Linked DNA regions of Homo sapiens. The protein of the gene in region 1 purifies or fractionates together with the protein of each later gene. This does not show direct contact. Each region holds a gene or a part of one and is shown in the gene's direction. Other genes may lie near its edges.

Region 1 (5,195 bases):
CCTTGACTTCCCGGGCTCCAGCGATCCTCCCACTTCAGCCTCTCAAGTAGCTGGGGCCACAGGCGTGTGCTACCATGCCCAGCTATTTTTTGTATTTTTGGTGGAGAAGGGGTTTCACCATGTTGCCCAGGCTGATCTCTAACTCCTGAGCTCAAGCAATCCACTCACGTTGGCCTCCCAAAGTGCTGGGATTACAGGCGTGAGCCACCATGCCTGGCCTACAAAATTAACTTTTAAAAAGCCGCTATATTGGTGTACTACATCATTGACTACTTTGTGTTCACCTTTCTGTCGTTTTTGTGACAGGCCATCCTCTATCTGTGGTGTTGTTTGTTGTTTCTTGGTTTTAATTGTTCCTCATCATACTTATTTATTTATTTTTGAGATGGAGTTTCGCTCTTGTTGCCCAGGCCAGAGTGCAATGGCGCGATCTTGGCTCACCGCAACCTCCGCCTCCCAGGTTCAAGTGATTCTCCTGCCTCAGCTTCCTGAGTAGCTGGGATTACAGGCATGTGCCACCACTCCTGGCTAATTTTGTATTTTTAGTAGAGACGGGGTTTCTCCATGTTGGTCAGGCTGGTCTCAAACTCCCAACCTCTGCTGATCTGCCCGCCTCAGTTTCCCAAAGTGCTGGGATTACAGGTGTGAGCCACTGTGCCCGGCATCATACTTCTTTATACTTTTCCATTTCTAAATTCATACTCTTTCAATGAATGATTCTAATTGCTCTTGGTCATTTTAAGTTTCATTTCATTTTTCTATGACATTAACTACATTTTGGTATTAACCAAACTTTCTGCTGTATGCAGACCTAACTACTAGAGCCTTGATACTTTGATCCAGGTCCTTGCTAAACATGTTTAATATTTTTGACAATAAGACTGTATTCTCCCTGCATGTACATATCCTTTTTTATTTTTATTTATTTTTTCTTTTTTAGATGTGAATATCTCTTGATTTGTATATTTAGCTAGTAATATAGCTAAGACCCTTTTCTGTGTGTGTGTGTGTGTAAGATAAGAATCTCGTTCTGTTACCCAGGCTGGAATTCAGTGGCGTGAACACAGCTTACTGCAGTCTCGACCTCAGGGCTCAAGTGATCCTCCTGCCTCAGCCTCCTCCTGAGTGGCTAGCACCACAGGTGTACCCTACCATGCCTGCCTACTTTTTAATTTTTATTTCTTTGTAGAAACAGGGCCTTGCCATGTTGCCCAGGCTGGTCTTGGACTCTTGGGCTCAAGCTATCCTCCCACCCTGGCCTCCCAAAGTGCTGGGATTACAGATGTAATCCCAGTCTAGTTAAGACTCTTATAAAAGTATTTTTGGGGTTGTAATTAAATGTATCTTGTCTTCTGACCGAGAGCTTGATCTGACCCATCATTTGGTACTGTGGTAATAGGTAAAGATGAAACATACAAATTAAACCAGAATGTCACTGTTCTTTCTGTGTTATTTTGATTATTTCAAAGAATGTATTTTGTTGAGCTTTAGGATTCTTAGGAAACCCTTGTGAAACACTGTATTGTAAGTTTATGAATCATGTTGTCATGTAAGATATAACTCAAGACTTGATAAAAGTTCAGATTATTCCATTCGTTTCTCACCGGAAATAAAAATTTGCCTACCACATCTGTTGCCCAGGCTGGAATGCAGTGGCGCGATCTCGGCTCACTGCAAGCTCCGACTGCCAGGTTCACGCCATTCTCCTGCCTCAGCCTCCCAAGTAGCTGGGACTAAAGGTGCCCACCACCATGCCTGGCTGATTTTTTTGTATCGTTTTTAGTAGAGACGGGGTTTCACAGTGTTAGCCAGGATGGTCTCGATCTCCTGACCTCGTGATCCGCCCATCTCGGCCTCTCAAATTGCTGGGATTACAGGTGTGAGCCACCGCGCCCGGCCACACCTTGTTTTTTACAGCATTACTGAAATCTGATAATTACCGACTACTGAACTGAGTGTCAAAAGACAAGGATATAAAATGAACTAAAATGTACCCACCACATCGTTAATAGTGGAAAATAATATGGGCAAAATATTGGGAGACCTTTGTTAGATTGGCATTTTTATTATTTATTTATTTATTTATTTATTTTTTGAGACAGAGTTTCGCTCTTGTTGCCCAGGCTGGAGTGCAGTGGTGCCATCTCACCTCACTGCAACCTCTGCCTCCTGGGTTCAAGCAATTCTCCTGCCTCAGCCTCCCGAGTAGTTGTGACTACAGGTGTCCACAGCCTTTGGAAGGCTAAGGCGGGTGGATCACCTGAGGTCAGGAGTTCAAGACCAGCCTGGCCAACATGGTGAAACTCTGTCTCTACTAAAAATATAAAAATTAGCCAGGTGTGGTGGCAGGTGCTTGTTGTATGTACTACAGGCACATACAACCTTGCCTGGCTAATTTTTAGTATTTTTTGGGCAAAACGCCCAACAGGGTTTTGCCATGTTGCTTAGGTTGGTCTTGGACTCCTGAGCTCAAGTGATCCTCCATCCTCAGCCTCCCAAAGTGCTGGGATTACAGGCATAAGCCTCCATGCCTGGCCTCCTTCCTTTTGAAGGATAAATAATATTCCACTGTATGTATATAACACATTTTGTTCATTCATCCATGGGTGGGCGTTTGGGTTACTTCTACCTTTTGGCTATTGTAAATAATGCTGCTATGAACCTGGGTGTATGAATATCTCTTTGAGACCCTGCTTTAATTCTTTTTTGTTTTGTTTTTTCTTGAGACGGAGTCTCGCTCTGTCACCCAGGCTGGAGTGCAGTAGCGCGATCTCGGCTCACTGCAAGCTCCACCTCCTGGGTTCACCCCATTCTCCTGCCTTAGCCTCCTGAGTAGCTGGGACTACAGGTGCCTGCCACCACGTCCGGCTAATTTTTTTGTATTTTTAGTAGAGACGGGGTTTCACCGTGTTAGCCAGGATGGTCTCGATCTCCTGACCTCGTGATCTGCCCGCCTCTGCCTCCCAAAGTGCTAGGATTACAGGTGTGAGCCAACCACGCCCGGCCGAGACCCCGCTTTAATGCTTTTGGGCATATACCCAAAAGTGGAATTGCTAGATCATATGGTAATTCTATTTTTGATTTTTGAGGAAGCGCCATCCTAATGGGTGTTATATATCTCATGTTGGTAAAGTATATTTTTTTAAAAAGAAAAATATTACTTAAAAAAATCTTTATTTTGGCCTTGGCAACAGAGCAAGACTCCGTCTCAAAAAAAAAAACTTTATTTTAATGGAAACAAACTATATTTGGCCAGGTTTAGCACATAGTAAATATGTGAAGTGCTCCAGTATATTTCTTGAGATTGAAGATGTGCATATAGATGTTGACACGTTTAAGGATTCAGCAAATTTGTAATCAGACCATATTAATTTCAGTGGTTCTCTTAATTAAAGGGTGAATCAAGTGTTATGTATTATTTTGCTAAACCGAACACATTATTTTCGTTAGATTAGAAGCAGAATGTCAGTGTAGTTGCAGCAGAGCGGAGGCATTGAGTAAATGTGTTGAATAAATAAATGAATAAATACCTTATGAAGGATTTGGAACCCAGGGATTCTTATCATTTTCTGGACAGTAACCGGTTTTAGGGATGATAAAACTTTTCCCCAAATGTCTGTATACATACAAAACTTTGCACGTGAAAAGTTTAGGGAATTTCACCTGAATAACAATTGTATTAACCAGCAGTTAAGTTTTATCCACCACATTAAACATAAGCTCCCTCCTCCTGATAACCTTAAAAAAGGTATTTTCAGCTCTAATATTCTGAATGTAATGTTGGGGAAAAAAAACCTCCCAGGAGGTGTTATTAATACAAGGATTCATAACCAGAATTACATCACCAGATATTGGAATGAGCAGTATTAAATCAGTCAGATTACCAATGAGAAAAGTCAATACCAACTTGTAAGGACTGAAATATTTATGTTAACATGGTTCTTTTTATAGATTTCTCACTTAAAAATTTTCTCACTCACTTAATTACTCAAAGAACATCTTCAGTTACTAACTGGAGAAACTGAAAATGAAAGAAGAAATGGGTGAGAGTGGAATCCTCCCACCTCAGCCTCCCCAGCAGCTGGGACTACAGGCACAGGCCACCTTGTGTGGCTAATTTTTAAAAAAATTTTCTTTAGAGACACTGGGTTTCACCATGTTCCCCTGGCTGGTCTGGAACTCCTGGGCTCAAGTGATCCTCCCACCTTGGCCTCTCACAGTGCTGGGATTACAGAGATAAGGCACCACACCAAGCCCTGAGTCAGATTTTAATAAATTCAGTTTCCATTAGAGTGGAAAATTTTCAAATTAATGAATTATTTATTTATATATTTTTTGAGACAGAGTCTTGCTCTGTCGCCCAGTCTGGAGTGCAGTGGCATGATGTTGGCTCACTGCAGCCTCTGCCTCGTGGGTTCAAGCAATTCTCCTCCTTCAGCCTCCCCAGTAGCTGGGATTATAACCTTGCATCACCACCCCCAGCTAAATTTTTTTTTTTTTTGTATTTTAGTAGAGATGGGGTTTCACCATGTTGGCCAGGCTGGTCTCGAACTCCTCACCTCAAGTGATCCACCCACCTTGGCCTCCCAGAGTGCTGGGATTACAGGCGTGAGCCCCAGTGCCTTACCAGAATGGAAATATTTAAGTAAACAAAATATTTCTAAATGTAAACTAATGGCCTACTTATTTAGCAATTTCAGTTCAGTTCTTAGGAGTTTAATATTTCATCTATATTTTAATTAACCACAGATATTAGGCTTTCTCAAAGATAACATTTTGTCCTAATTTTAGTTTCTCAAATCGTTATTAAGGTTATGATGGCAACCCAGCTTGTGAAGTAATAGATGATAATAATATAGTCAGGAAATATCATTTGGTAACCAAGGCTTCAGCAAAGTATTAAGATTTTTGTGTTTGTGAGTGTTATAGGTAACACTGTTGGCCCCCAACATTGTCATTTTGTACACTTTGTTGATCAGTGGCCTGAATTCATTAAAATTCACACTACATGCCTCAAAAAGAATATTGGATCCCAGCCTAGGTTGTTGAGTATATTCCTGTCCTTTATTAAAATGTAGGTTGATAGAAAGGTGGTAGGGATATTTAAATCTATCATGCTAATTTACTTTCTTTGTATCACAGCAAGGATAGGGAATTAGGAAAAGATTACTCACTCAATAGAGAAAAGGTAGATA
Region 2 (4,265 bases), on another chromosome or scaffold:
TCATTTAACTAAGATACAAGAAAATTGGGATTTGACCTCAAACTTATGTTTTTTACATTATTTTGTGATAACTTGGTACTAGGATCTGAACCACCTGGTTCTGTAATTTATGATGCCTGTGGAGAGTGCATGTTCATAGTAGCCAGAAGACAGTAACATGGCAAGGGGGAAAGGAAAAGGAATTATCTTTGTCTCACCCCAAACAATAATGATACTGACATTTTATTGTGCACGGTGGTTTTCAAAACACTTCATACGAATTTCCCATTTTATAGCTGGGACCACAGAGCCTCAGGGTTTCATTCAAGGCCTCACAGCCAATAAATAGCAAAACTGGGACTCAAACCCAGAATTTCTGACTAAATTCAGTTTTATTACTCCAAGAACCTCTCCCACATAGTTGGCCACATGGACAGAGGAAGTGGTTGAGTTTAAGTGTGAGTGCTCTGTGCAGGCTGGATGGTCTTCTTATCCTCAAGCATCTGTGGATGTCATTGAAGAGCCTGACTTCCTAATCACTTCCCAGGATCACCAGGCAATACGTGATTACTGACTGACTGAATCAATATACACTTGGATCTTGGTTTGCAAACTTTCACTTGGTGTCCCGCATCACACAGGTCCAGAAACAGCGAAACTTTTCTCATACCTCTCAACCTCTGGGTGTTCATGTAGACAAGGGACAGTTGATGGTTATACAAACCATCATGGTTATAAAAAATCTCTATTCGGTGCCTAGTTATTGTGTATTTTTGGTGTGGCATGGGAAGAAAAGAGCCAAGATATTTTGAAAATCGACACCTCTTTTGCAGTATCCGAGGCCAATTACTTTCTGTAAGAGGAGGTCGATTTCCAATTAGCATTTAAGGTCATTTAAGACCTTTGCAGTCTCCCCTGCACTAGTTGGGGCTCTTTCTGGGAAAGAGGGAAACTACAAGAGAACTACAAGGCTGGCATTGAGGGGCTCTTGCAGTCTCTAAACCCACCATCCCTTTCATTGTTGAACTGGGGTGGTGAGCCTGCACAAGCATGGGTGGTAGCTGACTTCCCTTGGGCAGGTCCAGAACAGGGAGCAGCATTCTGCAGAAGGTCCTTTTCCAGATTGAGAAACCCAAACCCTGATCTCCTCTTTTGATGATTTTACAAAAATCAAATTGCATGACAGATGCCCAGATAAACAGAAGTTTGCAATCAAAGCAAGTTCTGGGATGGAGCTGATTAGTAGATTTTTAATGGCTATTAGCTTGATAATCACGCACCAGGAATAGCTCCCAGGCAGACCAAACCCACGTATAAGTGGATCCACACCCATGTACACAACACCTAGTTGGCAGGTATATAAGGGGACCCTGAAAGCCTCCCAGCAGCACAGTTGAGTCTCCAGCCTTGACTCTTCTCAAGAGCCTGTGACTTTCCTCCCTGGACAAAGGCATCATGAGTTGTCAGATCTCTTGCAAATCTCGAGGAAGAGGAGGAGGTGGAGGAGGATTCCGGGGCTTCAGCAGCGGCTCAGCTGTGGTGTCTGGTGGAAGCCGGAGATCAACTTCCAGCTTCTCCTGCTTGAGCCGCCATGGTGGTGGTGGCGGGGGCTTCGGTGGAGGCGGCTTTGGCAGTCGGAGTCTTGTTGGCCTTGGAGGGACCAAGAGCATCTCCATTAGTGTGGCTGGAGGAGGTGGTGGCTTTGGCGCCGCTGGTGGATTTGGTGGCAGAGGAGGTGGTTTTGGAGGCGGCAGCAGCTTTGGAGGTGGCAGCGGCTTCAGTGGTGGTGGTTTCGGTGGAGGCGGCTTTGGTGGAGGCCGCTTTGGAGGTTTTGGGGGCCCTGGTGGTGTTGGAGGTTTAGGGGGTCCTGGTGGCTTTGGGCCTGGAGGATACCCTGGTGGCATCCACGAAGTCTCTGTCAACCAGAGCCTCCTGCAGCCTCTCAACGTGAAAGTTGACCCAGAGATCCAGAATGTGAAGGCCCAAGAGCGTGAGCAGATCAAAACTCTCAACAACAAATTTGCCTCCTTCATTGACAAGGTGACTCTGGAGAAGACGGCTCCCACTGATGCTCAGGCCACTTCACTTCCAGAGCCAACCAAAAAGAAAATGGCACAGATTTGTATTTCTTAGGAGCCAGTGGTGTACCGCAGTAGCCTGGGTCATTTGCGGTTTCCAGATGGAAAAGACGCCAGCTTTGTGGGTTACATTTCCCATAACAGCCTGCACTTAGGAAGCATTTGTCCCTTTGACCTTATTGTTACAGTCCATATAAATAATATTTATGGAAAATTCTGAAAACCATAAAAAATGGATATAGGCAAGTATTGAACTGATCCTTGGGACAGGCCACTGGAGCAGCAGGTTTTGGAAGCCATCGTCTTCTGAGATAGTGTTTCCTTCCTTAGCAGTGATTACTAAACTCTGGGAAGCTGAACCTGAAATATCTGCTTGGGAATGCAGGAAATTCCTGCCTTCAAGAGAAGCGTTCTCAGTTTTGTGATCCATAAAGTCTTTATTGGTGTCACTTCGGAGTGTTACTGGCTTTTCTCCTATTTCAAGGCAGACGAACCTGTCTTGGTTTATCTGCCTTGAAATAGGCAGGGATTTACAAGGCTCTTAAAAATCAGGCTGAGGAGCCCTGCCCTCTGGGACTCTCATACTCAGCACCCTTGCGAGCAGTGCCAGCAGATGGCTGCTTTCGGTTTTCCCCAGAATTTATGGGATCTTGGCTGGAAATTCAACCAGGATGCGGGGAGGGAAATGGTCTAGAGTATTGGGAGCAGCTGCAAACAAACCAGTGAGCAGTGAAGCAGCAAAGAGTCTCCTCTGCGTGGAGAGAGCCGGATGTAGCATTAGGAGTCTGTGGGACTTTCCAGGGGCGAAAGCAGGGAGCTCAGAAGCTCTGCCAGTCATGACTCGGCATCCAGCCTCAGACACTTCTCGAGGTCCTGAAGCAGCACCTGAGCTGCCCCTGGCCAGCGTGGCTTGCTTGGTGTGAAGGATGATCTAGAACTCATGTGCTCTCCTTCTGGTCATGGCAGGTGCGGTTCTTGGAGCAGCAGAACCAGGTGTTACAGACCAAATGGGAGCTGCTACAACAAATGAATGTTGGCACCCGCCCCATCAACCTGGAGCCCATCTTCCAGGGGTATATCGACAGCCTCAAGAGATATCTGGATGGGCTCACTGCAGAAAGAACATCACAGAATTCAGAGCTGAATAACATGCAGGATCTTGTGGAGGATTATAAGAAGAAGTAGGTGGCAGAGTGAAACGCTGAGTGGAGATAAACATTGCACTGAGCCATTTGATCACTCCCTGGAAAGCCATTCATCTCCCAGTTGCATTTGTGGTGGTAATGGGGAGAGGCATATGTATCTTTGTTGATTATTTGTGAGGAAGACAGTGAGACTTTAGAGATCATTTTTGTCTTTTGTATGTTTGAGAGTTAGTTTATAAAAATATATCTTTAGTTTGGAAATCTTAGTTTCAATTTAGATATTTAAAAAGTGTGTAATATTCCCAGAGAATGGGGCATTTGGGGTGAATCCAGTATAAAAGGAAAAGAAAAAAAATGAAGGGGAACTAATCTAACTGCTGTAACATCTGTGTCCCAATAGGTATGAGGATGAAATCAATAAGCGCACAGCTGCTGAGAATGATTTTGTGACGCTTAAAAAGGTGAGCGAGAGAATGTCTTGGCTGGGGGTGGGGATAGGAGTGCTTCACAGCCCCATTGTGTCTAAGCAGCCAGTTTGGAAATCAACTGTGAGTGCAAAAGCAGCAGCCAGAGAAAGGAGTGAGACCCATGGCACATTCTCTTGCAAACAAAATTGTCTCTGTAGGTCAAGCTTCTGGATACAGTTTTCAAAGCTGTTCTGCATTTTTGGTAGAGTGCTTCCCAGTAGTAACCCACTTAAAGCCTCTACTGAATCATGATAAATGCAAACACAAAAATCTCTTTGTATTCTCCTTCTAAAGAGCTGAGGAAGGAATGGGACTTCCCTTAGAATGCCTGCTTAAAGTTGCTGTTGGTTGTGCTGACAAAGGTTTGAGGTTGTAGGCCAAAAGCAAGGGTTCTCCTGCTGGGTCCTGCAGGGCCTTTGGTGTATATTCTGGGGAAATTTCGGAGAGGTGAGATGGACAGACGGGATGAGAGAGCTGAGGACTGTGGAAACCCACAAAGAACATCGTATCCTGTTGTAGAAACACACAGTGTCTCAAGCAGGAGAGAGGGGCTGGTTGGCAAAGCTTGGTCATCTCGAGGCTCTGATGGTCCTGAG
Region 3 (3,158 bases), on another chromosome or scaffold:
CCCAGCTCCTGGTCCTGCTCCCCGGCTGCTCAGGTGACACAGTCTCTGAGGCCTCCTGGAGAGCCGAGGGCCAGTGCCATGGGGGCTGCACCCACTGTCCCCTCCCTGCAGCTCTTCTGGAGTGTGGCCATCTCAGGGTGTGTGAAAGCAGAGGACAGGGCCACTTTACTGTCTTAACCCTGCTGCGGCCTCCTCCGTCAGCACTGTGTGCTCTTGTGCGGGGTGGACACCAAATCAGTGTTTGGAAAGTGTTGGATATAAAATGACCAGGAAGACCTGTCTATTCATTCAGCAGATCTCTGCTGAGTATTTGCTGTGGGTCCTCCTGTGTGCCCGGCCCTGTCCTAAGTGCTGGGAAGATATGAGTGACCAACAGACAAAAATCCTAGACCTTCCGTTGTTGGTGGGGAGACAGTCAACACAGTCAGTGAGTGTCTCAGAGGATGGAGATGGAGCAGGGTTAGGAGAGAGGTGTCTCGGGCATGGAGGGAAGGGCAGATGGCACTGGGGTGATGCCTGAGACAGGAGGTGAAGGTGTGAGGGAATGAGCCTTGTGGACATTGGGGGAATGTTTTGCCAAGGCAGCGGACTTCAGTTGGAAAACCACTTTGTGTTAATCTATTTTCATGCTGCTGATAAAGACATACCCGAGACTGGGAAGAAAAAGAGGTTTAATTGGCCTTACAGTTCCACATGGCTAGGGAGGCCTCAGAATCATGGTAGGAGACCAAAGGCACTTCTTACATGCTGGTGGCAAGAGAAAATGAAGAAACAAAAGTGGAAACCCCTGATAAACCCATCAGATCTCGTGAGACTTCACCATCACGAGAATAGCACGGGAAAGACCAGCCCCCATGATTCAGTTACCTCCCCCTGGGTCCCTCCCACAACATGTGGGAATTCTGGGAGATAGATACAGTTCAAGTTGAAATGTGGGTGGGGGCACAGCTAAACCATATCACACTTTTAATGTCACTGTATTCCTGGTGAGACGTGACAGTGTTAATGAGGAAGACATCAAGGCATTGGGGCTACAGATTGCCAGAGTCCCATGCAAATCATGAGTCGCTCGGACCACCCAGCCCGAGTTCTGAAGGAGCCCGTCCTCCTCAGATGCTAGGGACCCACAGAGCATTCTCTTTGGGACTTCCTTAGAGACCGGAGGGGTCGAGCCCCTCTGACACTGAGGGGCAGCTGCCCCAGTCAGATCCATTTGGTTTCAGGTCTGTGGCCCCTCTCGCACCAACCCCAGCATGATGATTGATGACCTCCTGACTCCATGCTCACCAGGGGACCCAGGAGCCATGGAGATGACTTGGATGGATGTCCCTGGGGACAAACTCTTAGAGCCTGTGGTTTGCATGGTAAGTGACTTGACAGGGGAGGGAAGAGGGCTGCACAGAGCCCAGAAAATTGAGGGTTTGGGTCCAGAATAAAAACGGTCTTCTCCAGGCCAGGCATGGTAGCTCACGCCTGTAATCCCAGCACTTTGGGAGGCCAGGGTGGGCAGATCACAAGGTTAGGAGTTCGAGACCAGCCTAGCCAATATGGAGAAACCCTGTCTCTACTAAAAATACAAAAATTAGCCGGGTGTGGTGGTGTGCACTTGTAGTCCCAGCTACTCAGGAGGCTGAGGCAGAAGGATCGCTTGAAGCCGGGAGGCAGAGGTTGCAGTGAGCAGAGATTGGGCCACTGCACTCCAGCCTGGGTGACAGAGTGAGACTCCGTCTCAAAAATAAAAAATAGTCTTCTTCTATGTCCTGGGCTGTTGAGAATGGCCTTTGTAGCTCAGGGAAGCTGGCATTACACTCACTGGGGGCCCAGAATGCAGGTGGCAGCATTAGCATTTTGTACATACAGAGAAAGGCTAGATGCAGTGGTGCAGTGATAGCTCACTGCAGGCTTGACCTCACGAGCTCACACAATCTTCTGACCTCAGCCTCCTGAGTAGCAACAGGCACACACCATCATGCCCAGCTAATTTTTCCTTTTTTTTTTAGAAACGGCCTCACAGTGTTGCCCAGGCCAGTCTGAAACTGCTGGGCTCAAGTGATCCTCTCAGCGTGGCCTCCCAAAGTGCTGGGATTACAAGCATGAGCTGAGCCACCACACCTAGCCTGCATTTTATATTCTTTAGCAAGTAAAGTCAGGTCCAGATAATATGACGTCAATCCATGGGTTTGGCTTTGCGGTGCAGTGAGGCAGTGAATGTGTCAAGACTGTGACGCAGTTGCAAAGGCAGCGCCTCACCTGCATAGCCTGGCCCGTGCCATCCTGGCAAGGGTCTGCCCTTGTGGCTGGTGTTGGGGGTGTGCAGCTAAGAAGGCTCCTGGCCGGGCGCCGTGGCTCCCGCCTGTAATCCCAGCACTTCGGGAGGCCGAGGCGGGCAGATCGCCTGAGGTCAGGAGTTCAAGAGCAGCCTGGCCAACATAGTGAAACCCCGTCTCTGCTAAAAATACAAAAATCAGCCATGTGTGGTGGCACGTGCCTGTAGTCCCAGCTATTTGGGAGGCTGAGGCAGGAGAGTCACTTGAACCGAGGAGGTGGAGGTTGCGGTGAGCCGAGATCATGCCACTGCACTCCAGCCTGGGTGACAGACTCCGTCTCCAAAAAAAAAAAAAAAAAAAAAGAAAGCAAGTTCGTAAGGGGAGTTATGAGATGATGGAGCTTAGATTCTCAGACCAGGAGGAGGCCCATCTGAGCTGCCTCGAGAGGGAAGAGGGTCCCTGCCATAGGCAGATTCAAGCAGGCCTCTGGGGTGGCCTTGAAGGCAAACCTCTTCCCACCCTCAGCTGCGCCTGTTGTGTGCTGAGGGGAGGTTGGGGACCTGGAGCCTGGCTCCTGCTCAGGCACATACTGTTGCCTTCACAGTCGGACATGCTGCGGTCTCTGGCCACCACCCGGCCCACGGTGAATGCAGACGACCTCCTGAAAGTGAAGAAATTCTCAGAGGACTTTGGGCAAGAGAGTTAAAAGCTGCTTCACTTGGGCAATGGTGAAGGTGGGAGGTTGATTGGGGCAAATCCAGGCACTCCCCATGTCAACAGCCAGACAGGGCTCCAGGGCTTGTCCCAGTCAATACAGAGTTCCCTCTGCTGTCTGGCCGTCTGCCAGGGAGCCAGAAGGAAGGGCCTTGCAGCCACAGAGACACTCCACTG
Region 4 (3,613 bases), on another chromosome or scaffold:
AGAATGCACCTAAAATCCAGGCCAACATTAAATATAATGCATATATGCTATAGCTTTACCTATGCTGAATTCATCTCATAGAAGGATTTATATAATTTCAGTTTGACTTTGTTAGGACTTTTAGAGCTAATAAAAATTGTGATTTGGCTAGGAAAGGTGAGGTACATTTTATAATAAATTATCTTAAATATAAGAATGTGAATTTTATTTTTCCTAAGAATGAGAAATATAATTTTACTTATTGCTAATAGAGAAGGCAGTTTATTCTTGTTTGCATGTCCTAAAAACCAGTATTCATTTCTTTCTAAAAATGTTTATGTAGACTGGGCACAGTGGCACACGCCTGTAATCCCAGCACTTTGGGAGGCCAAGGCAGAAGGGTTGCTTGAGGCCAGGAGTTTGAGACTAGCCTGGCCAACATAGCAAGGCCCCATATCTGAATGAATGAATGAATGAATGAAAAACAAAGGAGATTATTATTTCCAATAGTCTTAGTAATGGAACATTTCCAGTTTTCTTGAGGAATGAGTTTCTTTGGTTTTAATGAATTAAAATGGCCTTTGGAAGTCCCCTCCCTCTTTCTGAGTCTCTTCTCCAGATGAGTTTGGTATCCTTAAATTGTCCCTGATACTTTTTCTTTTATTCCTCTCTCGTTCTCATTCTTTTCCTATTTTAAAAATTGTCATATGGAATTGTTGCATACACTCCTTAGGAATATGTCACACTAGAATTAGGAGGTATCCACGAGGTTATCTAATCAAATCATTTCAAAATGCAGGAATTCCTTCTATAGCATCTGACAGGTATTCACCCAGCATCTGCTAAAATACTTGCAAATATAGGGAACTTTGTACTTTGAGGGATTACGTCACTGGAGAGCTGCCTGATTATTCAACAAATGATTTTGAATGCTTAGTATATGTAAAGCCTTTCTCTGTCTGCTTTTAGACATTTCTTTATCCAGGATTTGCGCACCTGCAACTTAGATTGTCATTTCAAAGAAAAATAAAAGGTCGAGTAAATCTTCCTCTTTAGGGATATGAGAGTCAAGACTTTCTGTAGCCATATATCTCCACCGGTTGGTCATAAGTATCTGTCTTTTTAAGTAGCCTGTTTAAGGTGTAAGCCTTCATTGGAGGCTCAGGTGCACTCAAGTCACCAGATGAGTGTTCTCCCCTTTGGGATAAGGCTTTTCATAGGTTCTCATATGGAGAATGTTTCTCTTAGCTACTCCCTTAGCCATGCACACAAAGTAGCTCTTTGGTTAATGATTTGTTTCTGGGATATCTTGATATCAAGAAGCTGGTCTGGAAAGCGGATATAAGCATTCTGGTCCCAAGAAAAGGATATCCCTATTTGAATTTAAATAGACCTTCTGATTTATAATTTTTAGAAAACTTATTAACAACTGATTGACATTACTTTGTGTTGTGTGTTTGCCCTCAGAGTTTCAAGAAGTTTTTAACCGAAGTGTCATGATTATTGCAGCAACAAATAGACCTGATGTGTTAGATACTGCTTTGTTACGACCTGGAAGATTAGATAAGATCATCTATATCCCACCTCCAGATCACAAGGTAGTCATTTACACATTTACTCTGTGTGAGCTCAGCAGAATTGAATTCCAACTTGGATATAGGTGTCCATGGTGTTCTACTTACCCTGGGTTCCGCCTTCTTCCTTGCCTGGTGGCCTTTCATGACATCATAATTTTGATCTTCCTTTGTTGGATACTCTGATCTTGTTCACAGAGAAACATAAGCCTAAATATATGGTGGTTATTTTTTGTGTTGTGGCAGACTCTAAATACTGAGTCTACTCAGCGTTATTTTGCAACTAGAGTGGAGGAATCCTAAAGTGTTAAAAGGGCTTTGAAGATTGAGTCAGCATCCTTATCATACAGTGCAGAAGTCTGAAATTACAGAGATTATGCAGTGTATCGTGGTCAACCAGTAAATTTGTTGTCCGTAAAGTACGGTGCAGAAATCTGAGATTACAGAGATTATGCAGTGTATCATGGTCAACCAGTACATTTTTTGTCGTTAACATCCAGAGCCACTGACAGGGAGGGTGAAAGGCACAGAGTGAATTTTTTTGTTCCTTGGGCTTTTATCAAGTTTTGAAGGGATAGAAAAATAAAATTTAATATCTATTATACCTTTAAGTTGTATCTGATAATTCATGTATTTGCTTCTTAAGCCATGTCTGATAGTATTATTTGTACCCAAGAGAGAGATTTAGCCGGGCGTGGTGGCTCACATCTGTAATCCCAGCACTTTGGGAGGCCAAGGCGGGTAGATCACCAGAGGTCAGGAGTTCGAGACTAGCCTGGCCAACATGGTGAAACCCCATCTCTACTAAAAATACAAAAATTAGCTGGATGTGGTGGCAGGCGCCTGTAATCCCAGCTACTTGGGAGGCTGAGACAGGAGAATCACTTGAACCCGGGAGGTGGAGGTTGTAGTGAGCCAAGATCGTGCCAGTGTACTCCAGCCTGGGTGACAGAGCGAGACTCCATCTCAAAAAAAAAAAAAAAAAAAAGATTCATAAGTTTTTTATGATGTCGTTATTTTTACCATTGTCATATAAGCCATTGATGACTTAGTCTTTCTAACCCCTATATATATTTTCTCGGTAATGTGAAAGGAAACTCAAGCTAAAAATATTTTAATAAATCATTGTGTCAAACATAAATGTTATAAGATTTAAAATACTGTTTTTTATTTTGTTCCAGGGCAGGCTTTCTATTTTAAAAGTCTGTACAAAAACCATGCCAATAGGGCCTGATGTCTCCTTAGAAAACCTCGCAGCAGAAACCTGTTTTTTTTCTGGAGCTGATCTTAGAAACCTCTGCACAGAAGTAAGTTAATTATTGAAGAAATTTGTGGTTCAAAACATTTCTGCATCTTTTCAAATCTTCATTCACTCAGCAGTATTTACTAAAAGCCTGTGTGGTACCATGTGATGTGAAACAGACAGATGTGGCCCCATCCCTCACACAGCTTATTGTAAGTGTGGGGTGGTGAGGAGGGTGGTGCAGAGAGGCAAATCTTAATACTGAGTTGGCAATTGAAAATATGTAGTGAGTTGCGGAAGTAGAGGGTACTGTGGGAGCACCTAGGAAAGACACCAGCCCAGATTTGGCACATCAGAGAAGGCTTTCTGAGAAAGGAGATGTATAAACTGAAATTGGAAGGACAAATCGGGAGTTAGCCAGCTAAGAAGGGAAGGGGGAATGTTTGAGGTGGAGAGAATAAAATGTGCAAAGGATTGAAGATAAGAGATGGTGTGACATTATTGAATCTTAGAGTGGAGAATGGCAAGAAATAAAGCGAAAGAAGTGGGCTAGGCGTGGTGGCTCGTGCCTGTGATCCCAGCATTTTGGGAGGCCAAGGCGAGAGGATTGCTTTAGCCCAGGAGTTTAAGATCAGCCTGGGTAATACAGTGAGACCCCATCTCTAGAAAAAATAAAAAATTAGTCAAATGTGGTGTTAGTCCCAGCTACGTGGGGGACTAGTAGTCCCAGCTACTTGGGAGGGGGAGATGGGAGGATTGCTTGAGCCTGGGAAGCGAAGGTTGCAGTAAGATGAGATCGTGCCGCTGCACTCCAGCC

Evidence for each region. Proteins that work in one complex are often made in the same cells at the same time.
Region 2: the proteins of METTL3 (region 1) and KRT2 purify together in Homo sapiens (affinity purification with mass spectrometry; one large-scale study listed by BioGRID and IntAct). This does not show direct contact.
Region 3: the proteins of METTL3 (region 1) and VPS4A purify together in Homo sapiens (affinity purification with mass spectrometry; one large-scale study listed by BioGRID and IntAct). This does not show direct contact.
Region 4: the proteins of METTL3 (region 1) and AFG2B purify together in Homo sapiens (affinity purification with mass spectrometry; 2 studies listed by BioGRID and IntAct, with this or other methods). This does not show direct contact.

What each region holds. Positions count from the first base shown.
Region 1 is NC_000014.9:21,504,082-21,509,276, reverse strand, and holds part of METTL3 (N(6)-adenosine-methyltransferase catalytic subunit METTL3), read left to right. Parts: intron 1-5,195. UniProt on the Homo sapiens protein: The METTL3-METTL14 heterodimer forms a N6-methyltransferase complex that methylates adenosine residues at the N(6) position of some RNAs and regulates various processes such as the circadian clock, differentiation of embryonic and hematopoietic stem cells, cortical neurogenesis, response to DNA damage, differentiation of T-cells and primary miRNA processing.
Region 2 is NC_000012.12:52,649,312-52,653,576, reverse strand, and holds the start of KRT2 (keratin, type II cytoskeletal 2 epidermal), read left to right. Parts: upstream 1-1,365; 5' UTR 1,366-1,434; coding exon 1,435-2,019; intron 2,020-3,023; coding exon 3,024-3,238; intron 3,239-3,602; coding exon 3,603-3,663; intron 3,664-4,265.
Region 3 is NC_000016.10:69,321,337-69,324,494, forward strand, and holds part of VPS4A (vacuolar protein sorting-associated protein 4A), read left to right. Parts: intron 1-1,223; coding exon 1,224-1,364; intron 1,365-2,871; coding exon 2,872-2,973; 3' UTR 2,974-3,158. UniProt on the Homo sapiens protein: Involved in late steps of the endosomal multivesicular bodies (MVB) pathway. Recognizes membrane-associated ESCRT-III assemblies and catalyzes their disassembly, possibly in combination with membrane fission.
Region 4 is NC_000015.10:45,415,823-45,419,435, forward strand, and holds part of AFG2B (ATPase family gene 2 protein homolog B), read left to right. Parts: exon of another isoform or gene 1-83; intron 84-1,446; coding exon 1,447-1,577; intron 1,578-2,734; coding exon 2,735-2,860; intron 2,861-3,613. UniProt on the Homo sapiens protein: ATP-dependent chaperone part of the 55LCC heterohexameric ATPase complex which is chromatin-associated and promotes replisome proteostasis to maintain replication fork progression and genome stability.